3 separate regions of the Homo sapiens genome follow, and regions 2 and 3 are each linked to region 1. Evidence: fine-mapped expression QTL. A gene starts in region 1. Each other region holds a variant in brackets. All regions are shown on one strand. Distances are from middle to middle.

Region 1 (10,329 bases):
ACTGAATTTTGGAATGAGTGCTAAAATAGATAATGTGATTTGGTCATTAAGACACTGAAGCAGGTTTTTATTTTGTATGATTACTACTGTTACCAGTTGAGTTACAAATGGCATTGATTCACTGAGGATGTGTCTTGTCAACTGCTTCCTGCTTGACCTGCAAATGCCAAGTTAGTCAGGAGTAGGCTTAAATAAAAGTCACTGCAGTTCAGCCTGACTTACTGATTACTGGGGCTGGTTTCTTACCAAAACTGTGGGAATCGGTTATTCCAAATAGCTAGGTGGAGTCAGGCAGCTTCACGTGGCCGTTGCTCTTGACTCCTCAGTCCCCAACTCTTAACCCATATCTGTTTTCTTGTCTATGCAATGGTGAACCTGTTCTCTCTGGCCTTAAGATTATTGCTGAATTTTTTACTGATTGCTGGTGATATTTGAACCTCTAAGCAGAGTTAGTTATTATCATCATTGCAATTACGTTTCTACTATAAATTTTTTTGAGTTACAATCACAATGTTATCAGAACATCTTTTGATAACATTTCCTTTATTTTAGATAATGATTTCAGTACCAAGGAGACTTTATTGCTAGATCCAACTCACTGTTGTGCATTAAATTTTGTCTCAGATCTAATCAACTTTGGTGTAAAGTAAAAATGAGGTCAGAATGCTCACTAATTCATGGCTTGAGCTGTCCTTATAAGAGCAAAACTGAATAGTTGCATATATCATTGAAACATTTCATTGATTTATTTTCCTTATTTATATTGATATTCTCTTTACAGAAGTACTATAGCAATATGGAATTCTGTGTTATTAGATTCCTAATCTTAATTATCAAATACCAAAAAAAAATAAACTTCACAAAAACCAACCAATAAACAAAACAACAGAAAGCAAACAAAAATAATAACTTTTTCTAGTTTTGTCATAATGTTAGTGTAAACCATTCTTCTTACAAGTTGTATATTTAGAACCCCAAATTTCTATGGTACTATGCTCCAAATTAAAGTGTGATGTTTATATTAAAATTCTGAGCCAATTAACTAAGCAGGTACACATCTCTAAATACTACTGGCATTTAAGAATAATAGAGGGATGATTATAATAAACTACCAAATAATGCTTTTACAGATAATATTATGTCAGTTTATCAGCATTATGTTGATTATCATTCATACATTTCCAGTCTGGAATGTAGTAGCTACAAGAATCAAAAAGCAAAACCATAATAAAGCTAGTCTTCCTAGTTTGTGCTTGCCTCCCAAATTAAAAAAAAAGTTGTTATGTGCCAAAAATGTAAAACTTATTTCAAGAAAATTAACAGGCTACACGGGTAAATTTTGGCAAATGCAACTTTATATTGAAGTTCACACATCTGTATCTTAAAGAATGAGACTCACAGACTCTAATGTATTTCTAAAATACCAGAAATCATAATATAAGCTTTCACAAGTTAAAACTGAAATAATTTAAATTACCAATACACTGAATGTGCAGAAAGTATAAACAAGACTGTGCCTTCAGTAGAATAAATGCTTCACAAATTGTGCAGGATGTCATACTAAGGCTGTGGTCTCCCCTTGACAGCTGACTTAAAATATAAACATACATCAACTGCCTGCTTCTTAGAACAGTTTAGAAAGGGTAGCACACCGTAGAAGAAAATCTCATTATTTCAGTGATGTGCACTTTAAGTTTCAAACCATGTGAGAAAAAAGGAAAAAGTAATAAATGATCTTCCATGCACTTTTAGATGCATGACCATGACCAGTTACTGATTTGATTTCCCTTGGCTATTTGCTCCAGTGCTAAATAAGATGAAGGATACTAGATAACCCTTTAAGGCAACATGTATTTATTCTGCATTATTAGAACTGCTCAGTTGTGACAGGCTGGTACCATTAATGTTGCCTCCCAGACCAATATCTAGCATTTGTAAAATATAAATGAATTGGAAAAACTTTATACCAAATCAACAAAAACCACATAATACAGTTCAATGCTAGCAATCTTACTAGTAGATGAGGAAAGTGGTATTTAGAAATAGCAATGTATTAATACAAAAAAAGTAAACTCTAATTGGAACCAATATACTGCTTTGGAATGCTCCCCAGAACTTACAAGGCGGTTTTTAAAGTGTGATATTCCAATAATTCATTGGCACGTCTTTAGTGGATTACAGTACTTTAAGTCCCCAAATATTTTAGTCTTTGCAAAACAATAGTAGTATGAAATGTTTTAAAGTCTTCAAACTTCTAAAATTAGTTTTTATCAACACATTTACCTCATGTCAACTTAATTTATTAAGATGTCCAATGCTAATTGTTTTTTGATGTTTTTTCATATGTAGTGACATACAGAGCATTTAGCACTGATACTTAGCACCTGCTACTTTCATTATCTAGTTTTTGACCACATAAAGAAACTTAGGGCAGTGGTTCAGTCCCTTCTTAATTACAAACCTTTGCTGGCAGTCAGCAGGATCACTCTGAGATTTAAAATAGGATTATAGGTGAACTATTGCAAAGACTGCAGAATGTTGCCCAAATCCTTAAAACTGCTGATTCCATTCTTGAATTTCTTCTCAAAATATGGCTATGGGCCACAATTGCTCAGCAGAGAAGGTTAGTTTTCACAAGGCTAAAGATTTACAGATGCTCCCTCATATAACACAGTAAGGTTCCCTTGGTAACCTGGATTTTCTGCAGTAAAGAAGGGTTGTGCTGAAACAGCGCCTCAGCTCCCTGTTTGAGAAAATGCAGACAAAAGGATTGATTCCTGCTTGGGCAAAACTCATCCAGACAGCAGCTGTTAGAAATCCCCCTGGTACTACAGGCCCTCTTGCAAAAACTCTCCAATAACAGGCCACCAGGTAGGGGCCCCACAAGGTTAGAAACAGAAAAGTCATTATATAGAACATTCTGCTGATTCTTTTCTCCATTTTGAACTCGTCTAAGACCAATAGCCTTCTTCTGCCTGTGGTGTTTGCATTTTGCCTGATGCCCAGCAAGGTGGGTGGTGTGGGACCCCTTCCAAATCCTGCTAGCCAATTGGCAGCTGCCTGGCCACTGGCTCCAGGACCATGAAAAGTCCAGTTCTGGCTGACTGCTGCTACAAACTGGACTGGCTTCATTTTTCTTCGATCGTGGACGAAAAATATCAGCTTGAGGTAGACAAGCTGTGTGGCTAGGAGGATGAGAGCAAGAAGCAGCATAAATCCTAAGGAATCATTAGCCCTGAAGGAGCGGTGTTGGAAGGTGCATTGATCTTCCTCCCTAATGAATGAGTAAGTGCCCACGTCTAAAACCGGGGGAAATGCCATGGCCACAGACAGAGTCCACACCATACAGATCACAGCCAGACACGTCCAAAAGGTCAGCCTCTTTGTATAGAAGCGGTGATGGGCGATAGCTAAATATCTGGTGACACTGATGCAGAAGAGCATGAAAGCAGTGTGGAAACAGGACAAAACCCCCAGAAAGGCAATCACTTTGCAAGTCAGAGTCCCATAAGTCCAGGTAGAACCATTTTTGACAGAGTTGAACACAAATGGGAAACAAATTGCAGATCTGAGGATATCTGAACAGCAAAGATCCAACAGGAAGTAGTAAGGTGCTCTATGCAAGGTCTTATCTTTCACTAGCAAAATGGAGATCAGGAGGTTGCCCACCACGCTGACTCCTATTATGAAACCCAAGGAAGTCAGTTTCAGAAAGGCTGTTAGAGGCGAGAGATTTTGCAAAATGTTGTCAGCTGCATGGCTATAGTTCGCCATAGATGGATGGAGGATAAGGATACAGCCTCAGTCAAGTCTCATGATCTAGATATAAGAACAAGGAAAAGATAGATCCATACATTTTACTGAAAATATAATCCACAAAGAGAACTGATCTGATCTGCAGTCATGCTTCCTCTTTTCTTCCACTTGTTTTGCCATCAGAATATCTGAAAAAAAAAAAAAAAAAAACCTATCAGTTCTTAAGTTAACAAGCAATGATGTCAGACAGTGCTAACAAAGCTGTTCACTTATGGGGAAGCAAATAAAGTTTTAATTTTGAATACTAATATTTGCTTTACTAAATATTTTTGCTCGAGATTTCAGAGAATTGGCTTGTTTAGTTTTTCAAGCTAAGTGAATTTTAAAATGTCCCTATTTTGGACAATATACATTTGATAGGGTAACTTTAGGAGAGAAGGAATAAAATGTCCCATTCTTGTAAAATATGCCAGTCCAGGAATTAACCACTAGAATTGCAATGGAATCTACAAGATTGCTATTAGGAGGCAGAGACACTACCTACATTTATTTGAGATCTATTAGTATCTGTCAGTGTTTCACAGGCAGCTTCTCTGTTTGATGTGGGTCCAAAGAACCCGTGCAAAATATATCTTAAGTGCCACTATTCATGCTGCATAAGAGTATTTGTTGATTCATCTTAAAGCAAAATTTCAAAATTAACTTCAAAATTAATAGGAACTTACTTGTCCCAAGATTTGATGTGATTTAATCATTTGTCTTTCCCTCTCCACCCTACCCCCCATTTCTGGCAAATCTTTTAAGCCCACATGATTATTAAAATGGTTAATGTAAATATTGGACAGGGAAACACACCCAGAGGAATAATGCACTTCCATTTGTAAACCTTGGCTGCCTGGATTCAAATGAATATAACATGAACCTGTATTTCTTGGGCAATTAAGCCTTTCCCATTTACACTGATAACCTTTGTTGCAAATCACAAGTGGCTGCTTTTTAAAACAAAATGCACATTGTCTCGCAGGTGCCTGGACCACACCAGGGAAATCGGCTTCCTCTGTTATTCCCACCAAGCGTGTTTCTTTTGCCACTTCTCACTGGCCCGGAATATGCTGGTGGAAGCCCAGGCAAAACTGCGTTCGATGATTTTAATTTCCCCACCGGTACATCCTCGGGTAAATACCGATCGCATCATGCAACATTACGAAACCTGAAATCCGCCACCCCTGGATTTATAATGGGGGGAGGGTGGAGGAGGGGGAGAGGGAGAGAGACATGCATTACATACGCGAAGATGGGGAGAGAGATTGCTTCTGTGCTGCAAAGGAACCGTTCCCGGTGATTCGCAGTCTGATATTCCTCAGTCTTGTAAGGCTTTCCAGAAATGGAGCTCTCAGTAAGCCCTACTGAAGATGCATTGTCTGAATGTACTTCCATTATGCAGTTTATTGTCACAAAACACATACACACACACACACACACACACACACAGAGACACACACACACACACACACACACACAACCTGAGGGAGGGCTCTTTCTCGGTGAACCTGCAGTTTCATCAACACTGTGCATTCCCCCACATCCCCCAAACTTAACCAAGAGTATATCCTCCTACCTGTTGGTGTTGGATATCCCGACAGACTATAGCTTCTTTCTATAAATTGCTGATTTTTTTCTTTTTTTCTTTTTCTTTTTTTTTTTTTTTTTTTTGTTTTTTGTTTTTTTTTTTTTTTTTTTTGCCTTAGTGCCTTGACTGAGCATCCAGGCAGGGCTCGGCGGCGCCTGCGCGCTGGAGCCTCCTTGAGCTCCAGCCGCGTCCTCCCCTGTCGCAGCGGCACCGTCTCCCCCAGTAACGCAGGGGCCGCGGCGGCGGCGGCTGCGGTGGCGAGGGCGGCGGCGGGGCTGCTTCAGCCTCTGTGGAACCAGCAGGAACCCCTACCTGACTCCAGAGCTGGCTGGGTTTATTGACTGCCCTGTCCAATCCAACTGGCAGCATTAAGCTTTTGTCCCTTCGTGGCTGCTTCTGAACTTTTCCCTCCCCGCATTTGTAGTGGGGGGCTGGAAAGGCCCTTTCAGGACCTCAGGCCCATCCTCTTCCCAAAGGCAGCGCACGAGGAAGTCACAGTGCCCGTGACGCCCGCCCCCTCCCTCAGCTTCCCGGAACCCTAACCTTCCCCAGACACTTTCTTCCCTTTTCTTTTAGGGTGGTCCAAACCACCGGAGGCTTCTTTTATATATTTATTTTTAAGTGATGTCTCCAGCTAACCTTTAAATTTGCAGGTTAGCTGGAAAAAGACAAGAAAAGAATGGGAAAAAAGAAAAAAAGTTATTTATTTATTTATTTATCTTTTTCCCACAGTTAAAAATCTTTTCAATGGGGAAGAAGGGAAGGCACGTTAGGGCAGCTCTCTCTTTGTTAGTCATCTTCTATTCTCCAATGCACGCAAATATGCGTAAAAGTAGGGAGAAAGCTAAGTTCAGAGGACAACTACAATATGATTTACATTCAGTCTACCTTAAAGGATGTCACTAAAGAATCAGGCTTATAAAATGTTTAAATGGCTATTCCTGGCATTCCACCCCACCAAGCAACAGTATTCCTTTTCCCTTCTTACAAGTTCCGCTGACCAATGATGGGTGATGTCAAAGCAGTTATGTGTACGAGTTTCCTTTTTTCCCCTTTGTTATTACAGATGAAAAATACTAGAAATATAACAAATACGTAAAACTTACACCAGTCCAAACGGTCGGATGATACCACAGACACCACAAAGCCTGACACGTGGGTGCTTAGGAATGCCTCTAGAATCATGCATTTTCTTATTTTACCATTTCCGAAGAGTTTTGTTTGTGGAGGTGATATAAAATTTTAAGCAACAACTTCCCAGTTCTCCTACCCAAAACTAGCAGACACGCTTTCATTAATTCCCAATGTAAAACGTCTGCTTCTTTTTCTGCATGCTTTTTGCTTTATAATAATCTGTTAATGAAACAAAAAATAAAAATCTTCTCTACAGTAATAATCTGATCTTGAGACAGCAGTAAAATACCTCATTGCTGGGTGGTGAGATTGTGACATTCAGGGGAACTCAGGCCAATCAGCATACAGATAATATGGGTTAATTTACATACTGTATTTCTATTGGATGAGCCGAGGTAAAGCCTTATCTTGATGTCACAGTCGTTACACAAAGCCCTATGTTGGTAATACTGAAATGATGTTAAATTTCCCTGATTTGTTCTTGAATTTCCTACGTCCATTTAAATACATGGATAATAGTTTGTTTTTTTCGAAAAGAATATACACAAGGCACTAAACTTTGGCATTCCCTTAACCTAGAAAAATCAATCCTACAGCCATGCTGGAAGTAACTTGAGGGCATTTCCATTCAAATAAAACATTCCACTTTTTGCAAAGCAAATGAATTCAAAACTCAAAACCATGTGGTGGTTTGCAACTTCTAAGTAAAATGTCAAATTCGTTTTTATGAAACTACAAATCACTTCAACTTGTGCTTTTTTGCTTCCCAATAAATGCTTCAATGTACTTTGCAAAGAGTTATTTCCTGAATTTTTACAGTTTTAAAAAATGTATGGAATAAGAGGCTTAAGTTTGCTGAAGATTCATGATTGGTCAGATGTTAGGTTGTACAGATTAGGGAAAAGCTATTTTAAAGTAAATTAAAAGAGTCACTGCACTGCCAGGCCATGAAGCAGTAATATACTCTGCCAAAAGTTATAGGGCCAAGATCCAAGGGTTTTAACTAGTCTTATTCTTTAAGCAGATATTGATTCCTTAAAAATAAGGGAGAGGGTATATGTGTATGCAATATTCTTTCATATCCACATCTCAGGGTATAGTAAAGCTATTTTTTTCCTTTGCAGTTGAGCACAGTTACATCCACTAATTCTTCAGCTTTTCCAGCTGTTGGATAAGAATGTCATTTTCTTGCCTCACAAGGGGACTCAAGAAATTAATGAGATATTTTCTATCTAGCTCATTAACTCTACTGGAGAAAACATTGGAAGCTACATCTTTCATCAGCAGGGCTTTAAAAAATATGTTTAATAGCTGACAAAAGTTTCATATCATCTACAAGTTCTCAAATGTAAAGTTATTGCTTCAAATTGTTTAGATCATAGGCTTAGTTGGTCTTAACTAATTTCTTTTTTTTTTATCCCCTACATCACCAAACCCAGAAAATTTGATTTTCAGGTTAAGAGTAAAAGAACAAAGCAAATACAACAAAACTATATGCTCTAATCCTTGGGTTTGAAGGGTTCTGAAGATTTACAAACTGTTGGAATATTACATGTACTATATTGATCAGTGTATTAGGAAAACTGATATAATTTGCTTAATTTGGTTCTTATAAAAAGTACATACCATTTTATTTTAAAAACCAATGACCTTGCTTTCAAAATTAATCTATTTCAGATTTTTGCCAACTGATGCATAGTATCATGATCAGCAAAAACAGTGTTTTTTTCTGTGCATTGTTTACATGAAAGTGTGTGTCAGGAAATAACACTTGGTAATTGCAGAGAATAATAGACTAGAATAAACATTCTAAATAAAAGATTTTTAGTAATTCATTTCAAATGACATGTCTTCTGCTTAAAGCATAAAACGTGTGTCTTTGGTGCTCTCAACTGTTACCAAAATTTAAAGTTGTATATGAAAAAGAGCCTTTTTAAAGTTTTCTTTAAAACTTTAACTATCTTTTTGATGGGGTTGTTTGTTTTTTTCTTGTAAATTTGTTTGAGCTCATTGTAGATTCTGGATATTAGCCCTTTGTCAGATGAGTAGGTTGCGAAAATTTTCTCCCATTTTGTAGGTTGCCTGTTCACTCTGATGGTAGTGTCTTTTGCTGTGCAGAAGCTCTTTAGTTTAACTAGATCCCATTTGTCAATTTTGGCTTTTGTTGCCATTGCTTTTGGTGTTTTAGACATGAAGTCCTTGCCCATGCCTATGTCCTGAATGGTATTGCCTAGGTTTTCTTCTAGGGTTTTTATGGTTTTCGGTCTAACGTTTAAGTCTTTAATCCATCTTGAATTAATTTTTGTATAAGGTGTAAGGAAGGGATCCAGTTTCAGCTTTCTACATATGGCTGGTCAGTTTTCCCAGCACCATTTATTAAATAGAGAATCCTTTTCCCATTGCTTGTTTTTCTTAGGTTTGTCAAAGATCAGATAGTTGTAGATATGCGGCGTTATTTCTGAGGCGTCTGTTCTGTTCCATTGATCTATATCTCTGTTTTGGTACCAGTACCATGCTGTTTTGGTTACTGTAGCCTTGTAGTATAGTTTGAAGTCAGGTAGCTTGATGCCTCCAACTTTGTTCTTTCGGCTTAGGATTGACTTGGCGATGCGGGCTCTTTTTTGGTTCCATATGAACTTTAAAGTAGTTTTTTCCAATTCTGTGAAGAAAGTCATTGGTAGCTTGATGGGGATGGCATTGAATCTATAAATTACCTTGGGCAGTATGGTCATTTTCATGATATTGATTCTTCCTACCCATGAGCATGGAATGCTCTTCCATTTCTTTGTATCCTCTTTTATTTCATTGAACAGTGGTTTGTACTTCTCCTTGAAGAGGTCCTTCACATCCCTTGTAAGTTGGATTCCTAGGTATTTTATTCTCTTTGAAGCAATTGTGAATGGGAGTTCACTCATGATTTGGCTCTCTGTTTGTCTGTTATTTATGTATAAGAATGCTTGTGATTTTTGTACATTGATTTTGTATCCTGAGACTTTGCTGAAGTTGCTTATCAGCTTAAGGAGATTTTGGGCTGTGACAGTGGGGTTTTTTAGATATACAATCATGTCATCTGCAGACAGGGACAATTTGACTTCCTCTTTTCCTAATTGAATACCCTTTATTTCCTTCTCCTGCCTAATTGCCCTGGCCAGAACTTCCAACACTATGTTGAATAGGAGTGGTGAGAGAGGGCATCCCTGTCTTGTGCCAGTTTTCAAAGGGAATGCTTCCAGTTTTTGCATGAACAGACGCTTCTCAAAAGAAGACATTTATGTAGCCAAAAAACACATGAAAAAATGCTCACCATCATTGGCCATCAGAGAAATGCAAATCAAAACCACAATGAGATACCATCTCACACCAGTTCGAATGGCAATCATTAAAAAGTCAGGAAACAACAGGTGCTGGAGAGGATGTGGAGAAACAGGAACACTTTTACACTGTTGGTGGGACTGTAAACTAGTTCAACCATTGTGCAAGTCAGTGTGGTGATTCCTCAGGGATCTAGAACTAGAAATACCATTTGACCCAGCCATCCCATTACTGGGTATATACCCAAAGGACTATAAATCATGCTGCTATAAAGACACATGCACATGTATGTTTATTGCGGCACTATTCACAATAGCAAAGACTTGGAACCAACCCAAATGTCCAACAATGATAGACTGGATTTAGAAAATGTGGCACATATACACCATGGAATACTATGCAGCCATAAAAAATGATGAGTTCATGTCCTTTGTAGGGACATGAATGAAATTGGAAATCATCATTCTCAGTAAACTATCACAAGAACAAAAAACCAA
Region 2 (10,329 bases), 56 kb after region 1:
GACACAAACATAAAATTTATTAACAATTTTTGAGACTATAGTTCAGTAATGTTGAGTATATTCATGTTGTTTTATAACAGAGCTCCAGAACTATTTTGTCATGCAAAACTGAAAGTCTATATTCATTAAACAATTCACTATTTCCCCGTTTCTCTGAGCATATGTTCTTTTATCTAATCCCTGTTACAAATTTGTGGGACAGTTTTAGGAATGCCATTTCACAAGGAATCGAACAAAGCTTAGAGGTTAAAAAAATTTCCAAGGTCTTATAAATAATAAAGATAAAACCAATGAGCCATTGATCAGGAAAGGAGTAAACTATTAGGAACACATAGTTTCAGGTGAGATAGAAGAACTACATTTTGCTTTTTTGCAGGAGTTGGTTTTTATGGACCATTCATGGGCATGGTAGCTCTTGCCTCTAAAATGTGCCACACAGCACCTGATGCTACTCTACTGTCAATACTTCTCTTTCCTAGAACTAAGGTCTCTGCTGTCTCAAACGATGCTGAGCAGAAATGGCTGCCAGATTGAGAACATCAGAAAAATGGTGTGGGTTCCTATGTTCACATTTTGGGCCTGTGATCCTCCCAGGCCACAAGGTATCAAAGACTGTTCTTTAGGGTGAGGGATGTTGGATCAACTTTTAAATCTTGCTAGAAATTTTCATGGGCAAGAGAGAAGGAACTTAAATGTGTCTTCATGGACCGGAAGAGCTGGCCTCTTGGGTTGATAGTGGCAAGGGCAAAGGAGAATCTGGGTGAAAATTTTTGGCCATATTTTCAGGATTACAGGAAGGGAAGGAAGTTAAAATACAAGATATATATATCATCTCCAACCTGGAAGAACTCCGTGTTGGCTAAGGCCTTACAAATAGCTTTTTCCTACTGAGATACATCCTGGCAATAGATTAGGCCACATGTGGAGTTCTACGAAGTGGTTGTTTAAGAAAGGTACTGGGATAGCAGGTGTACTTGGAATGATAAGGCAGGAGTGGAAATGATTAACTGTTGTGAAATAATGCATTTTATTTGTCAAGCACTATGTGAAGTGCTTTATGCACATTTTGTCTAATTCTTAAAATGACTTTTTATGTTAGGCATTATTGTCCTTATTTTATAAACTATGTCTCAGGAAGGTAAAGAATTTGCCTTTGATTACTGGGTTGGTTATTAAACTAACATCTCTCAGCTTCAAACCCAACTGTCTACATTTTGCTTTTTGATACATGGGCTGTGGGCATCTGCAAACCATGTTTCTGCTTTTTTGATTGGTTAAACCCTGTCAGTTGGGGATACTACAGGAAATTGTAAGCAGGAGGAGGTAGATGGAACATGTTCTTTCTTTTTTGCTGTTGTTTTTGTTTTTCTTCCTATTTGCTTTCTGCTGGCTTTCTTTTCCCATGAGCATCACCCAGCAATGCCTCTTCAGTCTTGCAGCAGCAGTTTGTTCCAATAGCAGCAGAGGAGTCCAGTTTGTGGTTTCCCTGACACTCACAGAGTCAGCATCAGTCGCTGGCTCCCCTTCTTCAGAGATCTGGGACCCAGAACCATGGGATGCCTCCTCCCGCTAAGCTCAGGGACTCAGCACCATCAGATTCTCCTCAGGAGTCTGTGAGGCCTGTGCTCCAGGCTTCTAACTGTTAATAATTCTAATATCTTCATTTTGTTCCTCGAATTCTAGGAATGGTTGCTACCTCTATGATACCTTAGAGTTCTCTTTTTGCCATTTCAGTACTTAATTAACAACTTTTATAAAATTAACAATTCTTTATTTTATTTTATTTTATTTTATTTTATTTTATTTTATTTTGAGACAGATTCTCACTCTGTCGCCAGGCTGGAGTGCAGTGGCACGATCTTGGCTTACTGCAAGCTCCACCTCGTGGGTTCAAGGGATTCTCCTGCTTCAGCCTCCCGAAGAACTGGGATTACAAGCACATGCCATCACGCCCAGCTAATTTTTTGTATTTTTAGTAGAGGCGGGGTTTCACCATGTTGTCCAGGATGGTCTCCGTCTCCTGACCTCGTGATCTGCCCGCCTCGGCCTCCGAAAGTGTTGGGATTACAGGCGTGAGCCACTGCACCCGGCCAAAATTAACAATTCTTTATATTAATTTCTTTCTGTTTAACCTGTATGATTTCTGGCTCTTGGCTGGATCCCAAAACAATTAAATAACTATTACTACTGCTCATCATCATCATCATGGCCTCCATTTATTATTTAGCAATGCTTTTAAGGTGGTAGAACTAAGTTCCTCATAGTGGGTGTGGGCAGAATGCACATCCGCTATATTCTTTTCTTGCTACCCAACTGGCTACCTTTGGGATGGAGCAGAATTTTTCAAGGGCACAGGCCATTTGATCTTGCTAGCGCTGGTAGTGTCTATTAGCCCTGATGTGATGTTTTGTAATCTATATATTCAGTGCTAATTAAGCCTCAAAGCAATTCCAGCAAAGCTCTTTATAAGAACCAGGGCTATGTTTATTTTTCCCCATCGACTCTGCAGAGCCAAGAACAGTGTCTAGCAGTGCTTGGTAGGTGTTTAGTATGCATTTGTTGAACAAAAGATTGCATGAATGCATGAGCAAGGCTTAGGAATATTAGAATCTTATCCTCTCCAGTGAATGGATTCTGGAAACTGACTTCTTGGATATCTGGCCTTCTTCCTGATTTGTACTTACGTTGCCATCTGGGACTCAAGCCTTGAACTGAAACCCAGTATGTTCAACAGAGGCCTGACAGCCATTCTATTCAACAGAACTTCTCAACCCCACACTTCTTGTCCCTTTCACTATCTATGCCCTTTGAGTTGTTGGCTTGAGATGTGCTTCCAATCAGATGGACCCTCCTTGAACCATAACATTACTGTGGTTTCTGCCTGCTGCTGAGCTCTACTCTATAGGTCTTTATGGAAGTAACCCCACTCTGAGCACTGGGGAAGGCCTCTTTCCCATTGGGATTTGTACAGCAGCTAACTTCTCCTGCTCTGTACTTTCAGCTGGTTGAGCTACCTCTGTGTCTGCCCCAACCCTAATTCCCTGAATCCCACCCAGGATGCTGGCCCATGCTCTTCTCTCTGCCAGTGTTTGAAGTTCCTGCATGTCTCATGGTTAAGACTGCACAGTTTGGTGTGTTTATAATTCAGGTATTTTTCACTGGTGCTCATTATATGCAGCATAAGTCAAACAAACAGAATTTCTTCTCCACCTGACCTCAGAGATGAAATAAAAACTATCTTTGTGTTTAAATAAACGTTTCCTGGCCACCTTTATGCATAGACAAACTTTCCTTGGGATACTGAAAGAAGAGTATAAGAATATACATACCTATATTTGTAATTCAACATGATTTAACATTATTTTCCCCAGCTGAAGTTATACATGATTTTGTGTAAGATTTAAAATTAATCTCATGTTCAGTTTCAACTTGTTATTGTGTCTACTTTTTTTTTTAACTTGCATAGAAGAACAATTCCATGGATCATATCACCTGATTGACATCTTTCTGGTTTTGCTCTCTCTGTCTAAAATATCAGAGAACAGTAGAAATTTCTGCATGACTCAGAATGTTGAAAAGCCTTATATGATAGTAACATAGCATAAGAGCATATCCTGTGATGATTTTTCTTTTAATAATAGAGTTCTGGTTGTCAGGTTATACTAGGAAGCTTTTCAAGATGGGATGCCTTTGAAGTAACCACACAGTTCCTTCTCTCCTTTTTCTTCTATGATTACTATTTCTTTAAAATGAATAAGTAGGCAATTGATTTTATGCCCAGAACCCAACAATGAGACCCCCACAGAACAGGGATAATTGGAACACAGATATGTGAGCAGATGGGGAAAAATATCAGCAGGAAGGAAATGACCCAATGAAGTCTCAATGAGTAGAATATGGTTTACTGGAAAGTGTATAGCAGGTAGTAGGGACCCAGCAGTAGGTCTGGAGTACAGACATTACTCCCTCAGAAAACTGGGAAAGGCAGGCAGAGGTTTAGGTAAGGTAGATGAAGAGACCAATGTCCTGGAACAACAGTTTGAGATCAGGAACTCAACAGCTGAAGTTCACATAGGCTGACTGAGTTTTAGGACATTGAGCTATGGCCTAAGGCTCTGTGATCTTTTCACTAGTAACTGAGGCAAGCAATAATGAACAATAATTTAGGAGTGAAGTTGGACATAGTGAGTCTTGTCTGGTTCTCCTATGTGTATAATTTAGAAATCAGAACATTGCTATTAAACAAGAGTTAGAAACAGTTTAGGACAAAGGACTTAGACAGCAATATTCTTCCCCAGACAATACCCGCTCCACTTTTCTTCTTATTGTTGTTTTGTGATTAGTTGGAATTAGTTGGAAGGGACCTGGAAAGTCATTATAACACATTTGTAAATATCAGGTTTGGTGTGGAGTAGTATTTGACTTCTGAGGTATGGATGATGATTTGTGACCAATTAAATATCTAAACTTTCTATACTTTAGACGTTGTCAACTAGCTGTAATTTTGCCCTCCCCTTCCCTCAACCCAGGACATCTGGCAATGCCTGGAGACATTTTCGTTTGTCATGACAGGGGAAGGGGGAATGGGAGTTACTGTTACTTCATCTAGTGCAAGGGTCCCCAACTCCCAGGCCGTGGACTGGTACTGGTCTATGGCCTGTTAGGAACTGGGCCATACAGCAGGAGGTAAGCGACTGGAGAGTGAGCACTACTGCCTGAACTCCACCTCCTGCAGATCAGCAGCGACTGATTATGTACCCTATTGTGAACTGTGCATGTGAGGGATCTAGGTTGCATGCTCCTTATGAGAATCTAACTAATGTCTCATCTGAGATGAAACAGTTTCATTCTGAAACCACCCCCCACCCCTGTCCTTGGAAAAATTGTCTTCCACAAAACTGATCCTTGGTGCCAAAATGGTTGGGGACCCCGACAACTTAGGTATGTAGAGGCCGATGACGCTGCTAAATATTCTACAGTGCATAGAAGTCCTCCACATCAAAAAATTATCCAGCCCAAATGCCAATGGTTCTGAGGTTGAGAAGCCCTGCTATAAACCAAACAGACTGTCATTCATTTTGTTTTTTTTTAATCCTGGTATTCTTTGTCACTGTGGATATGTTTCTTGGGCAATTGTTATACCCCATAAATAGTCTAAACTTGTTCTGAATATAACAGAATCATCTTTCGGCACCAGTTGTCTACTCAGTCTCCACAGGTTAGCATTCTCTGACTATGGCATGTGTGTTTGGGTGCATGCAGTTCATAGTAGCAGAATAGAATGAAACTGTAGACATTCACAGACCATCTAAAAGGATTAATACATGACCTTTCCTTTCAGGGTTTTTACCATCTGAGCTACTAAATAAAATAGGTGCTTTACCCAGAGATGCAAGCTTGAAACTACAATGTGACCTAATATGTTGTTTTTAATGCAGATTAGTTTCTTCAATGCCAAGGCAACAAAAACCTGGAGTGAAATCCTATTACTCTTGCAAGCTGATGTGCATATTCTCTTCTCATACACAAACAGCTTGGAGACTTGGACCTAATTTTATGGCATCTGTGTATGCTAGGGCCACTAATAACATAGACACTGACTGGCAAGAGTTGAATGAACTTTGTTAATCTGTTAACCAGCTGGGTTCACTTAGGCCTAGTTGACTTTTTTAGAGGAATTATTCTGTAATTGGAAATTTCTATGCCCCTTACATTTTAGATGATTGAGGGACTTGGTAGGTTTATTCTGCCTTTTGATCTTTAGGTGCTTTTTATGTATCTATTATATAGAATCACAGACTTGAAAAAGACTTGAGTGAGGTCAGCAAGCTACTGCATGCAGCCAAATCTGTCTTGCCACCTGCCTGTTTTTGTAAAATAATATTTTATTAGAACACAGAAATGCTCATTCATTTACGTATTATCTGTGGGTGCTTTTACATTAAAGTGGCAGAATTGAGTAGTTGGAACAGAGATTATATGTCATGCAAAGCCTAAAATACTTATTATCTCTCCTTGAGCAGAAAAAGTTC[G/A]TTGACCCCCACCTAATCCCACTTCCTCATTTTGCAGATGAGGAAACTGACTCTTAGAGGGACTGACTAGACCAAGGTCACACCACTAACAGAAAATCGAGGTTAAAGCATGATTAACACATGTTTTGAGAAATGAGGATGATGAATATCAGACCACTGACAAGCTATGTTCTAACAGCAAAATGAAGAGAAAAAAATATATTCTATAACTTGATTTACCAAAGACGAAAAAACAAAACAAAACTGGCTTGATGGATTTACTTCTTCCCTGAATAGATCAGTTGTCTTTATGTCATGCAGATAGAGCCGAAGCAGGACTTCAGTCAAATGACATCACAATTTTATGCAGCTAGGTGGCTGTTTTCCAAAGAATAGCAGAATATTTGTTGGTCAGCCTCCTGTGTCTCAGCATTATATTCCTCAAAAGTTGAATTATTGATGGTAAGTCAGAGAAGACACTTTGGTAATTGCTGAAATCTTGACTGTATTAAGACTGACTGTCCCTGTGTTCTGCTGTGGCACCAGCTGACAGTGATGAAATCTATAGAAGTAGGGCACATTTCCATAACATGAATATTCAGGGTTGGTGATGCAAGAATTATTATTAAACCACTGGGAAGGAACACATTCTCATTATTTGATTGAATACTAAATGCTGCCTTTTAAAAATAATTCAGTATGAATACTTTGATAATGAGGAAAGAGAGATGCTTGGAAAAAAAACTCATACTTTTTTTTTCTCTGGTACGTAAGAAGGAAATTAAATTAAGTTTAAAATATATAGCATGTCTACAGGAACTATTTTGGAACCATTAGCTATATTTCATCTAAACCTGTCTTACATATATCGAAGTATAATGTAATAGAAGCCTGAATAGAGTCTGATGTAAATGATTTATATAAAAATAAATTATGTAAAGAAGTATAAATAAAGACCCCTGAAAATAAATAAAATGCCTATTACAAATAATAACTTGAAAAAAACTTTAAAAAACCCAATATTTGTTAGACGTTAGATGTGTTTGCTACAGTTCTGAGTTGGATGTGTATGCTGCATTTCTGTAAATGACACAGTTTATATATTTCAAGGACCCCTGGCACCTCTAAGAACCCTGGGTATTCCTCAAAACTGAGTGTACTTCATATATGATGACAGTTCAGACAGCTGAAGTGCCATCATATATGAAGTACATCCAGTTCCTCATAGCCAAGATGTTATGCATAGGAAATAGAAAAGAAAGGAAAATGATTTGATTCATTCATCCATCAAACATGAATCAAGCCTCTGCTACATGCCAGACAGTGCACAAGGCTCTGGTCCTGCACAAATTAAATAAACAAGGTCCTTGTCCTCTAAAAACTGATGATCTAAAGGAGGGTGCAGGCAAGTAAACAGATTTTCAACAGAAAATGGTATGTATTCTGTAATAGAGGTAAGCTCAGATGCCATTGTGGAAAATTTCTCTTCCTTTTTGCTGGTTTCTCATCGTTCCTTCTAGCTCTTCTCCCCTAATCAGTTTAGGTGGGGTTGTCCCTTAGGCCCAGATTGGGTTTGTACCCTTTTGTTTCTCTTTCTACCTCCTCCTTCCTTGAGTGTGCTAACTCCACCCTTGATTTACTAACTGGGTTGTGCTTCCTTGTCTGCCCTCCTAAAGATGGCCATCCCTTGTTAGTGCCTTGAGTTTTCACTTCCTCCTTCTCCTCATTCTCTTCTCTCTTACAAAAATGAAGCCACTGAATGCCCAGTTACTGAGGTTCATGCTTTCACTAGTAAACCAAATACATATTGTGTTAATGCATCTACTAGGTGTTCCTATTTGTTATCACAACTATGCATAGGCATCTATGTAGCAATTTTACTTTAAATGAAAAGTCTTGCATACTACAAATCTTTTATTTGAAAAGGTAGAGGGGTACAAGGCTGAAATTTCAGACATTGTCCCTGGAAGCTCCCTCTGGTTGCACTATTTAGGTAAAAAACAAATGAACAAGAGACTAGGTGAGGCAAAGTCAGTGAGAGACTGGAACAGAAGTCACAGACAATTCTTTTTAGCACAACAGCCACTCATCCCATATTTATTCTTCCCATATTTCTTAAAAGGACATCTGCTCTGTGTGGCGCATGGCAGTGGGATGTATTGGGAAGAATCTGGATTTTGGAATCATACTGTGTTCAAATCAGAGACTCAGCTGTTGCAAAAATAAAAATGCATGTGCAAACACGTAACACACTGCTTGGCTTCAGATCTGTGATCAATACATGTGTTTCTTCATTATTTTCTTTCTTTCCTTCACTAAGAGAGATAATAAACAGTAATCATTTACACATATCTGAGAAAAGAAGCTTTGGAGAGAGAGCAACGAGTGTTTCTGGAACTGACCTCCACACAGAGTAAATTCAGAAATCAGCAGATCTACATTATTTATTCAAAGAGAGAACTGCATTGTAATCACTTTCCTGGATGCATGGGGTGAATGAGTGACAGCAAATACCTCAGTCATTGTGAGATGGCAACCTGAAGTAGGTGCATCTGAGAAAAAGGGCAGAGACCTCCCCAAAGGTCAAACAGAAGCAAGGCAGCAGGCAGCATTGCAGGGGAGGCAACTGCTGGGAAAGACACAGCAAGGAAGAGCTATTATGGGATGCCTCTCTGTGAGGTAGGGAGTGACTGTATATATGTTTTGAGACATCAGATCCTCCTCACCAAAGAGCCACTCTGGAAATTCTTGTTTTGACTTCATCCTTTAAGATTTTAAAAAGCAGTACCCTGAAGCTGTTTTCTTTGTTTTACTTTGCTTTAATGACTTAACAGCATTACAACATGGGTTTAAGTGCAAGAGAGTTTAGAAAACCTTTAGAAAAATAAGTCAAGCAAAGTTCAAAAGAAAACATGAATCTTATGCTAATTTTACCTGTAGGACTCAGGGCAGAAGTGGCCAAGCTTTTTGGCAGAAGGCACTGTTGAAAGGTATTGTGTGGTTGTGGCGGAGACAGTGGGAGGATGAAGTGAATCAGAAACTGTTGTTCTGTCTGGGATGAGGGGAAAATATCTGAAACTACTCCTTCATTGAGCAGAGGGCCAAGGATAGAACCCCAAAGAACCAAACTAAACTCAATCATAGCAAAACATCCTCTTTCTTTTTGTTTCTGCTGCTACACAGAAGAGATGAGGTGGGGATGGTCCATGAAGATGAATGACTGCTTCCTAAGACACTGTGGCGAGGAGGCTGTGGAAAGATGGCAGCAGCAGACTGTGGAGAGAAGTCAATTCACTGTGAGTGGTCAGACAATACCTGAACCAAGAAGACACATGGGACAACCTCTTGGGAACAGAAAGTTCAGAAAAGGGCTAAGAAATAGGATGGAGATAGGGATACTCAATGATCTAGTCATAAGGGATCAAAATGGGAATGCAATTAGGAAGTAGAAGGCCTGAGATAGACAGCAGCCACTGGGATTGGAAGCAATTTTAGGATGATTTCCCAAAGGGTAGAGATGTTCCAACAATAGCTTGATGATAAATTTTGTATTTTTTCAGGGCAGCTTGGCACTTCCCCAGGTAATCCATTCTCAGAGTTTCTGTTCAATCAAAAACTGTAGCTTCTTTGGTTTAGGAGTTTCCTGAGCCTGTCTCAGGGCAATAACGCCTTCTGGGTTAACTGGAGACTTCGTCAGAGACAGATGGGAGCTAACTCCAAAGAGTCATCATGATAACTGCGGTTGTTCAGATTCTTTATTTCTGGGCATCACATAGAATTTAGATTGGGACTCCTTTTCTATCTAACTGAGGGATGGGAATCATAATTGCATATTTAATTTTGTCATTAGAAATGATAATAAACTCATTGCCATTATACCACATGGTTTAAAAATAATCTGTTAGAGCATTTGTTTCTTGTTGTTCAATGTAACCAACCTTATTAAAGACCTTGTATCAACAGTGTTGTTTTGTTTTGTGGCATAATTAAAATCATATTTCTGACTTGTGTAACGTATAAACACATGCAAAGTTGTCATATTTTTTTATGAATACAGTGATAGAATATATGGGACTTTTGATAACTTACTGGTTTTTAAATGACAGAATTCATTTTTTTTTTGCATCCTGAATCAGAGTTGTGATTTGCTAAGTCTGGTATTAAAAAATAACTCATTTATCCAGAGCTGGAAGAGGTCAGTGAGACAGATAAGAACATTTCCTCAGTTTACATTCCAGGAGTGTGTCTACGTGCAAAGCCTATAGAGTTGGAGGAAGCATGGGGAAGCCCAGTAAGGAGAAGATAGACTAGGAGAGGG
Region 3 (10,329 bases), 27 kb after region 1:
TCTATTTTGCTTATTATAGTATTATAATAAGCTTATTATAGTGTTATCAATAATGACAAGATGTTAAATACCATTGGCATGTCCAGCATTATTAAAGGTATTGTTTTGGAATAAGTAATGGTAAATATAAGGGGTAGAATATTACTTGATTGTTAAAATATCCGTGAAACACTTACATGTTAAACAGACAAACAAAACTAGAAGACAAAATGGTATGCATGTTCCAATCCAGTTTCATTAAATTTATGCAGGTGGAAGATGGCTTGGAAGAGTGAAAACAGTTTTGCTGAGGACAGGTAAGGTATGGGTCATTCTGATATTATCTAATGTTATCTATATATCATTACCATATATACCATATCATTATCTAATGTCATCTATATATCATTACCATATATACTAATTATCTAATGTTATGATTTTTTTAGTTAAAAAGCAATACATTAGATAGTGTAATAACCATTTAATTTGGTTTATAAGTTACAGAAAAAAATTTTTTGTTACTTTGAAGTCACCATTTATTTTATCAAATGATGTAATTTTACCTCTCCAAGTAATTTAAACTCCCCAGTCCTTAGAATCTAGGTATAAATGAAGCTCAGAGCTCTCTTTCAATTGGATAATTAGCTCACGAGTGGTTGCTCTATTTCTCACTCACCTCATTCACATACAGGGCTCAGCTCTGAATTGCTTCTGGCTCATTCCAAAAGCCAAGTGCTCAAACATGAAGACTTCTTTTTATTGGAAGTATTTGAAAGGGCATGCCATATTCCAAATATGAATTCCAAATATGCTTTAAATAATGGCAGCATCAATAAAGTCCACTTTTCTCTAAGACTATTTTTTAAGAGGCCAAAACATTTGAATGAAGCAGTTGATTTCTAAAAAGTGACTTTTAATGTTTCTTGTACCTTCAATCATACCTAGACACTGAATGGATTTCAGAAAGTCATAGGGCCTGGGTGGAAGCCCCAACACAACAGCAGAGTGGAATCATGGATTGGCTATTCTATAATCCATTCGCCGTGACTGAGGGTGAGAAGTGGAATTCTATTTGAGGCTATATTTGAGAGCCATCTTTGAAAATGAAGAAGTAGTTTGGGCTCTGGGTATCTTTTCTTTCCTTTTTTTCCCCTTTTTTTCTGATACAGCCTTCAGCTGAATGAAATGTGGGCTTTGAGATCACCTGTGATAGCATTCTCTAAGACTGCAATATGTTGAAAACTGTCTTGTGATTACTTCATAATGGATATTTTCCAATGGATAACACTTAGAGTAAATCTGAGTTGCCAACAGCTTTCAGAAAGGCAGAGGTAACACTGTATGTAAAACGGAAGCTCCAAACCTGCGGTGTTATTAAAAAGCAATAATATTGCTTTAATATTATACCTCTGTCAGCATATAGACTTGTTTATTCAATGCTACTCTATTAATCTGTTCTTCAGGATGTTTTAGGAACTAAATTTAATGCACAAATATTTATTGAAACCTCTTTTAGCTGACTGTGTTAGTACTTGCAATGATAAAAAGACACAATTTGATTTTAACAAATTTATGATATAGGCAACAGATATGGGGGTGAATGGGAAGGGAGGGGACAGTAGGGCTAGTGGTGAAAAAGGGTTGAATGAAAACAGGTAAAAACAATGCACTGTGAACTCTGGAGGATGGATATCATTAACTCCTTTTTGAAAAGGTTTCATGAAGAAAACAACATTTGTAAATGTTCCATGAGCATGAAAGCATGGCAAGACATTTGATTTTGCCAATGCAGGCAGTCTGTTGTTGCTGGAGTATAGTATGAGTAAGAGAACGAGAGAGGGCAAAGGAGAAGATCATCCTATGGTTCATCATTCAAAATGATGAATCATTTCTGAACTAAATGTTATACAGATCATTAAATATGTCCATACAATGCAAGCTTTTATAAATAGTATATATAATCATTTAACTCAACTAACTAGCCTATATCTTAATATTTATTAAAATCATGTTTTATAAATATAATTTAATGTCCAAGAAAATGATACATATCACAAAGAATCTCAGGCCTGTCCCATGCAACATCTGAAAGGTTGGGAGAGCTGTACTGATGACAGTGTGGGCACAGCCAGGCTCACTGGGGGATGTCATGATCCACTGTGGATCCTGGGCTACATTAACTTTATATCACAAATTAGTCTATAAGAATTGGGTGAGCAAATTCTACATGCCAGGAGTTATGCTGGAAGCAGAAATACAATGAATTAGAGACTCAGTGTGTGCACTCACAGAGCTTAGAATCCTGAGACAGGGGTGAGGGTGTTTAGAGATAAAGATAAGTAACAGAAATTCCAGTACAGCGTGATATGTACCTGTTAAGAGAGGTGAAGAATGCTATGTGAGCATACAGTGGGGTATGTGACTCAGACAGGTCAGGGAAGTTGTCCTAAAAAAGTGTGGTTCAAGCCTAAAGAGACAGGAATAAGCTAGGTGAACTGGAAAAACTACCCCAGGCAGAGAAAGAACCATGCAGACACAGAGTGGGGGAGAAGTGAGGAGAATAACAGACAGTGAGAGGAGGAAGGAGAAGGAAGAAGTAGAAGGTAAAAGGAAGAAGAGAGGAAGAGAGAGAACTCACCTGGTGCTTTCTAGAAAGAGAAAAAAGTTTAATGCAAGGTAGGTTAGGGATCACAGACATAGATGAGACTGGAGAAATAAGGGGAGGGAATATGGGCAGATCACACAGTGCTTTCTTAAGGTTAAAAAATTCATAAAAACAGGAAATCCCTTAAACAGTTTTGAGATGGGATCAGATTTGTTTTATGAAGTTTACCACAGTTGTGTTTAGAAAAGATTGCAGAGGGGTAAGATGGGAGGTGATATTGTTTGGCTCTGTGTCCCCAGTCAAATCTCATGTTGAATTGTAATCCCCAGTTGGGGGAGGGACTTGGTGGGAGGTGATTGGATCATAGGGGCGGATTTCCCTCTTGCTGTTCTCATGATAGTGAGTTCTCATGAGATCTGGTCATTTAAAAGTGTGTAGCGCTTCCTCATTTACTATTTTTCTCTCTCCTGCTCCACCATGGTAAGCCGTGCTTGCTTCCCATTCATTTTCTGCCTTGACTGTAAGTTTCCTGAGGCCTCCCATCCATGCTTCTGGTACAGCCTACAGAACTGTCAATTAAACCTCTTTTCTTCATGAATTACCTAGTCTGAGGTAGTTCTTTACAGCAGTGTGAGAACAGACTAATACAGGAGGCTGGAAGACCAGCTGGGGGGTGCTGCGGATGTCATCCACGTCCTCATGATGGTCTACATGGGTAGGAGCCACAGGGATGGAGAGAAGTGGGCGAATCGTAGGGATAATTTGGAGGTGGATTCCACAGGACTTAAAAGATACATCAGACGGGGAGTGTGATGTGTGCCACCCATCCTCTCAAGTGTCTGTCTTGGTCACTGGGAAGATGGTATCTATGACCTGAGTCTCACTGGTGATGCCAGAAAAGACCAAGCCTATGAAACCAAAAGGTTGTTTATTCCTGAATAGAGCCAGGTCAACATCAATTAGCAGGTGGGCTGTTTGCTGTGAGTGAGAGTGGCAGGGCCATGGTTTGTTTTCATTCTTCCTTCTTGAGACAATCCCTAATCACACTTGTTCAGTACAGAAAATGAGCTGCCCCTCCCTGCTTCACCGAATTGAAATCCAAAATGTACCAAATGACTAGACTACTGTCACTGAGGAGTTCGAAGAAAAAATCAGCTCCTCACTGCTGCCAACTGAAAATGGATAATTACAATATTTTTAACACATTATACCTTATTATTTTTGAAATTAGGAAAATCCTTATGAAGCCACAAAATTCTATCAATAGGAAACCTCTTAGAAATTACTGACAAAAAATTTTACAGATGAAAAAGTTGTGGAGGTTAAATTATTGGCTCAAGATCATTTGCCTGATAGTTGATAAATATTTTTATTTCTAAAGAGTACTGGTTATTTCTCAAAAACTGTTGAGTAAACAAGTTAAAGTTAAGCACATGCCATCTCAGGGGCTATAAAACTGTTTCATGTTGGTATTGAAATGCCCTGGTAATTTTTGTGGCAGAATGAAAGGGTTGTTGTGACAAATAATCTGAAATAGAAAATGGTATAGTTTCTGCTCTTGGTGCTCATG[C/T]CTGCTTCTAAATTCTTTTGTTAAGTGATTTACGCACATTTAAACAGAGCATAATTATCTTGATTAATATTGAGAAATACAGTATTTATAATCCCTGTGTTTAACAAAGTGCTACATGATTAGCCCTTTAAAAATAATTAACCCTCTTGTATATAAAATTTCATAATTTCATTTCATATTATGAAGTGCCAACTAATATTTTCAAAATTTTAATCACCCACATAAAATGGATCCAGTGGAAATATGTGAGAAGAGTACTTTAGCTCTGATACTTATAAATCAATGAGAAATTAAACGACATTATCTTTTTTTTGCAGCAATCATATATTTTTCTGGTCTTCTGCATTTTGCATTTAGATGTTAGATGTATATTAGTCAGTTATAGAAAGTATTTAGAAAAATGAAGTTACTGAAAATTAGAAAAAAAATAAACATGCTATTCTGCAAATTTATTTATTGATTTGGCCCCATTTTCACCTATGAGTGAAAATCATGTCTGGGATTAGTAAATCAAGATAAGGGCTTCCTCTCTACTCCCCACCATAGGAAACAAACATTAAACACATTATATGTAGTTTATAATTTCATGACTTCTAATGAGATGAGATTTGTAAGTATTTTTCTTGGTGGAATATGGACCAGATCTGCTATTTTCCTGAACAGGAAAAACCAAATTCCTTGCCTCTCCTTAAATGACCTGGGCAGTTGCTGCTAACCTTCTGTTATGCTACCTAGGAAGGAACCCATGGTTAACGTATTAAGAATCATTAAAAAATAATCAATTATTTTCTTTCCTTTTTTTCCCCTTCGAAAGCATGAGGTACAAACCAGAAGATTTAAAAAAATTTTAGGGTAGTCGAATTTTCTTTTCTTCACAGGTGTCTTTGAGCTTTATCAGTTTGTAAGCTAGAATTGTGTGTGTTGGGAAGGACTATAATAAGAAAAAACAAAGACTGAGTATCATCTTCAAGGGCCTGTTAGGACTTGGGAAAATGTCAAAATTAAAATTAAAGTTTGATATAGGATTTGTTCATATAACTTTTAAGATATCCTCTTTAAAAATTCAAAATTGATGCTTGTAAAGTTTCTTCCCCCTTCTCTTTAGGAAATATCTCTAAATACTCCTAAAAATAATAACATACAGCAAGCCAACCCTTCCACATACACTACCTTAGATATTTCTCATCTACCTAGGAGGTGGAGTGGAGAAATACTATTATTACATCCAATTAACAGACAGGAGATAGCAATTTAAGAGAAAATAAGTGACTTGCCCATTATGACATTTTAATTCTTGGAGAGACGTCTGTTAAATTCCACAGCTTGGACCCTTAGCCTCTATTATAGTACCACTGAAGAGACTGTTATGAGAGTCGCTGGCTGGGAGATGGGTCATATGCAGAAAATTCTCCTCCATTCATTATGTGCTGCAGGCTATATAGCTGCATTACCATTCCTATATCCAAGGTTGGAAATGGCATTTGATAAGCTGGTACAGAGCTAGAAAGCCCAGCAGGACACAGGTGCATGTGAGGTGTAGCTTCTGAGATTTCCTGGACCTGGCTAGTTGGCACAATTGGTATCACATCAGTTTTTCAAGAAGCTCCCACTTGCAGTCTCAATGCTGAGACAAAATATGAATACAGCCCATTTTCTCAAACTTCATCTACGTCCCTGCATTTCTTGATGGTTAGTCTCACTCCCTAGTTGAGACTGTTGGGTTAAGGTAGGAATAAACAATATGCTGGATGGGTGAAGAGGGGAAGGTGGATGTGGGAGATGACGGGACAAAAGTCTGTGAGTAAAATACCTTGAAGTAATCACTTTCCTGGTGTTTTATCTCTCCATCTCTGGAGTAGCTCAGAAAATTCCCTCTTTAAATATGCACCAAGACTTATACTTCTAGAAAGATGGAGTAGACATCTTTTTTCCTTTTCCTCCCACTAAATATAGCTAAAAACCCTGGACATTATGTATAAAACAAACATAGGATTCTGAAAGGCAGAAAGAAGGCACAACAGCTGGGTACCTCAAGAGCAAAGGAACAACAAAGTGGTGAGTTAGCTGGTTTTTTTTTTTTTTCTTCCTGTTTCAGATTGAGAACTGGAGAAGTTGGTAGCACAGAAAGGCCAACGGGCTTAGACCGAAAAAAAAAAAGGGTGGGGGGGTGGGAAACCAAACAAGACTATTCTCTCTAGTATTTAAAGGTATAGGAAAGGTGTAGCTTAGTGAAACAGAAAACTTTTAGAATTGTAGCCCCACTTCCACCATCAGCAAAGGTTGAGTGGAGTGCCAAGACCTCCACTTTCACCAGGCTGTAGATGTTCCAGGCTCCCCACTGAGGTATCACAGAAGGCTGGGTGGGGAGCTGGCACTTTCATCCTCACCAGTTGATAGTAAGAACCTCCCTCTTCTACGCTGGTACCCATGAAGACCATGTGGGTAGCCTGGACTCCACTCCCACCTGGTGGTAACAAGGCAACCTATCACCAGTGTCAGTGGAGGGTATAGGAGGAGCAGTCATGAGGCTTCCACCTGCATCTGGCAGGAAGGAGGAGGCATCCTCCCTTTCTACGAAGGAGTGGTGTCAGAGGAATGTTAAAATACAAAATTTAAATAAGAGCCACAGCCTTTTAAATATAATACCCAGAATGTCCAAATGTCAATAGAAAAATCATCATCATACTAAGAACTGGGAAGATCTCAACTTGAATGAGAAGACAATCAACAGATGCTAAACACCGAGGTGACAGAGATGTTAGGATTATTAAGGATTTAAGCAGCCATGAAAAGGTGCTTCAGTGACAATCACAAACATGCTTGAGACAAATGAAAAAACAGGTCTCCACAAAGAAACACAAGACACAAAGAACAAAATGGAAAGTTTTGAACAAAAAATACAACAGCAGAAACGGTGAACTTAAGCATACAATACTAGAAATTACCCAATCTGAATAAGAGAAAAAAAGGACTGAAAAAATAAATAGAGCCTTAGGTATGCATCAGACTATAACAAAAATATCTAATATTGGGTCCCTGGAGTCCTAGAAGAAAAGGAGAATGAAAGTGGAGCGAAATTTTTGTAAAAAGAAAGAATGGCTGAAAATTTCCTGAATTTGGGAAAAAAGAATAAAACTGTAAGTCTCAGATACCGAGTGAACCCCAAACAGGATAAACCCAAAGATATATCCATGCCGAGATATATCACAAACTTCTAAAAATTAATGACAAAGAAGAGTTATGAAAGCAGTTAAGAGAGAAATGATGCAGGAAATGTACTGATTTTTAGCATTAGAGAACTAAGCTGGTTACATTAAAACTACAGAGAACAGAAATATAAGTATTTGCAAGGACCTTAAATTCTTCACTTGATCTCAACTATTTTTAACTCAACTCAGTGAGCTAACATGCACAAGGCATTTACTAGATATCTACAAATTGTGCTGGGCATCAGAATATTTGCTAATGCCATTCTTGCTGTAACTGCTCCACAGCAGGTGTTATCCCTCATAGAAAATCAAGGAATTTTAGAATTGGAAAGATCCTGGATGGGCTTCAGCTCTGAAACTAATCTAAAAATGTCAGCATGCATGGGAATTTTCCTAAAGAAAAAGATGATAGCTTTCATCAGATTCTCAAAGGAACTGGTGGCCTAAAAATGTTAAGAGCCACCATAAGGGTTCTGTTCTTTTCAGGCAAAGCCATATAATCCAACCTAAATAGATGAGAAATGAGGCTATTTTTAGAGGAGGTGTTCCCCCATCATATCCATCAAAATTCCTGCATGCCACCTCAAGACAATTCTCTACTTTTAAGGGGAAAATAGGGAAATGGCAGTTTTCTAATTCTTTCTAGGCACTTTTGGAAATACACGTTGACCAAAGAATGTTTGCCTATAGTCTTATTTTGAACATTTTAAAAACAGTACCTGGAGGTGACTAAGTGACTACTGCACTGTGATTTAAAATGTACTTTAGGTTTGATTTCTCCCATCCCAATGGAAAAGTTGACATGCAAGGAAGCCGCAGCAGCCTTTCTACATCAGCACCCAATGGGCTGGAGTATAAGAGATGACAATTGTTCTATAACTTGCATCATTCCTTTTTCCTTCTTTAAAACACACAAAAAAATGCAGGTACAATCAAGCTATATTAATTATGAAATGTTTAACTGCCAATTAATTTGAATAAAGACTGTTAGTGCTTCCTCTAGCAAAAAATCGAAACAGCTGTGACAAAAACAAGTGCATTCAGTTTCCATGTCTTTATTCTGTGATGCTTCTTCACTCCTTGTACACTTTAACCAAAACTTTCATGCAAGCCAAGTCAGCTCACTCTAGAATTACACCATAAACAGGACTTTAGGTTGCTAGTGCCTGTTTTTGGATAAAAAATGAGGCTCCCAATGTCATCTGGAGAGCTACAGATTGGAAAATGCATTTTAGGAAAAAATTTCACTACTTACCTCCAGTGTGACCCTAAAGTTTGATTTCCTTAGACTACTTTATGCTGGCTACAACTTGAGAATCAAATGAATCACTGAGGACCCTTGTTAGACATGGAGTTCCAGGCCCCATCTCACAGCTATACAACCAGGAGAAAGACCAGGGAATCAAAAAGTCTTATCAAGTGCCTGGAATGATTCTTGGGCTCAAGCAAGTTGGCAGTCTTCTTAAATTTGTAATGTGCATACAAATTAACTTGGGCTTTGGAAACGAATGCTGTTCCTGATCCAATTGGTCTGGGTGGGGCCTGAGATTCTGCATTTCTAACAAGCCCCAGGTGATGTTGCTGGCTTGAAGACACTTTAAGTAGCTAGGCCAGAGAGGATATTTCGTTTGGCTGGCGTACAAATCAGTTTAAGCCATTTCATTTTCCTTCTATATTTCTAGATTTTCTATCAGGGGCTTCTCTGACCTTAATGCTGCCCAGTTCTCATTATGTCTCTTCAAGCTACCGCAATCAGTTAACACAAGGCATCCTGCCCTTCTCCACTTAGCTCATATAAAAATCCACAATGGATACAAACAGCCCCAAATAAGAAATGGACACGAAACATTAACTTATAACATAATGGGTTTATATTTAATATAGTACTTCTCATCAGGAGGATGTTACTCAGTTAATATAAAGTTTTTTTTCAAAACATTAAATCTCTTTTCCATGTCAATGTCTATAGTTTTTTTTTAACATTAAATTTTTTTCCGCATTTCAGTATTAGATACACTGAATACATTTTTCTAAATGTTTTTTCCCTAGAGATAAAAGTTTTCCTTTTTGCCTGACTCTCTGATATCTAAATATAATATTAACTTGGGAGACAACAAAACAAAAATCTAATTTAAAAGACTCCTCAACGATTCAGGAGGCAGTGATTATAACCGAACAGTGGTGATTTCCTAAGATTCTGGGCAAGAACTTCCTTCTTCCTATTTCACATGCTTTGAGAGAATTCTAAGATTATGAAATATTACTTATGTAAATTTCAGCCATCTTACTTCTTTGACTACCTAACTAGCAAATTATAGGCTGCATTTTTCTGTGCATTATTTGTTGTAAAGAAAACATTTTTTTTTCAATTTATAAATGTATGTTTGTTGCCATTTCATGGAAACAATGAAAAATGTGAAACTCCCTTATTTACTGATTCTTGGAACCTTTCACACACCAAATCTCAGGTTTAGCCTCTAAAGCGCAAAGGTTTTCAGGGTGAGGTTTGACTCAGTAGGCCTTTCAAAGTCACATCTGTCCATTTCTTTTTCGTGCATATACCCCCAAGCAGGCACAAATGCCTGTAATGCTGAGAACCACACCTAACAAAAGGGCGATTGCATCACCGGCTTCTACTGCTTCCACAACAGGCAGCACCAAAAGCAGTGACATGAGGACTAAGGACAACTGTGTTGAAACTGAGGTCATGATGTTGGAATCTTGAGGGCTGAAGGTTCCTAGAAATTAAACATGGAAACAAAAAGGAACCATTAAAAATTCCTCCCTTTTCAAATGACAAAATGAACACATGACAAATAACAGGCCAGCCAATCTTTTGGATACTTTATGAATCATTTCCAATCCATCTCCTCATCTTATAGGTGGAAAAACAGAGGGACGTTAAAGACAGTAATTTGAGGTTCATCTCCCTATCTCGTGATAACACTCTAAACCCAGGAATT

Which allele goes with the higher level. Positions count from the first base shown, and alleles are read on the strand shown. Sizes are in standard deviations (SD) of each study's normalised expression. Not every link is listed here.
For the expression in monocytes after Pam3CSK4 of the gene that starts at base 5,880 in region 1, T is the low allele of the variant in region 3 and C is the other (moderate effect, 0.43 SD a copy in Quach 2016).

What was found. PIP is the estimated chance that this variant, and not a neighbour inherited with it, causes the effect.
Region 2: its variant is fine-mapped to the expression of GPR85 in blood mononuclear cells (TOPMed, PIP above 0.99). The same link has a PIP of 0.9 or more in T cells and monocytes after R848.
Region 3: its variant is fine-mapped to the expression of GPR85 in monocytes after Pam3CSK4 (Quach 2016, PIP 0.95). The same link has a PIP of 0.9 or more in monocytes after LPS.

What each region holds. Positions count from the first base shown.
Region 1 is chr7:113,080,948-113,091,276 of GRCh38, forward strand. GPR85 (G protein-coupled receptor 85) reads right to left here and starts at 5,880. Exons shown (of 3, transcript NM_001146267.2): 1 at 5,375-5,880; 2 at 5,045-5,162; 3 at 1,338-3,944. The coding sequence starts at 3,774. The coding sequence ends at 2,662. RefSeq lists a silencer at 5,566-5,625.
Region 2 is chr7:113,136,469-113,146,797 of GRCh38, forward strand. LOC107986837 reads left to right here. Exons shown (of 4, transcript XM_047421162.1): 3 at 9,195-9,307; 4 at 9,572-9,973. The coding sequence ends at 9,658. Among named protein-coding and RNA genes, the nearest start is that of SMIM30, 23 kb to the left of the region's middle. The variant G/A (reference allele first, on the strand shown) is at 6,033.
Region 3 is chr7:113,107,504-113,117,832 of GRCh38, forward strand. LOC107986837 reads left to right here. Exons shown (of 4, transcript XM_047421162.1): 2 at 252-296. It overlaps SMIM30 (small integral membrane protein 30), which reads right to left. Exons shown (of 3, transcript NM_001352688.2): 3 at 9,215-10,104. The coding sequence starts at 10,075. The coding sequence ends at 9,896. Among named protein-coding and RNA genes, the nearest start is that of SMIM30, 5.9 kb to the right of the region's middle. The variant C/T (reference allele first, on the strand shown) is at 4,158.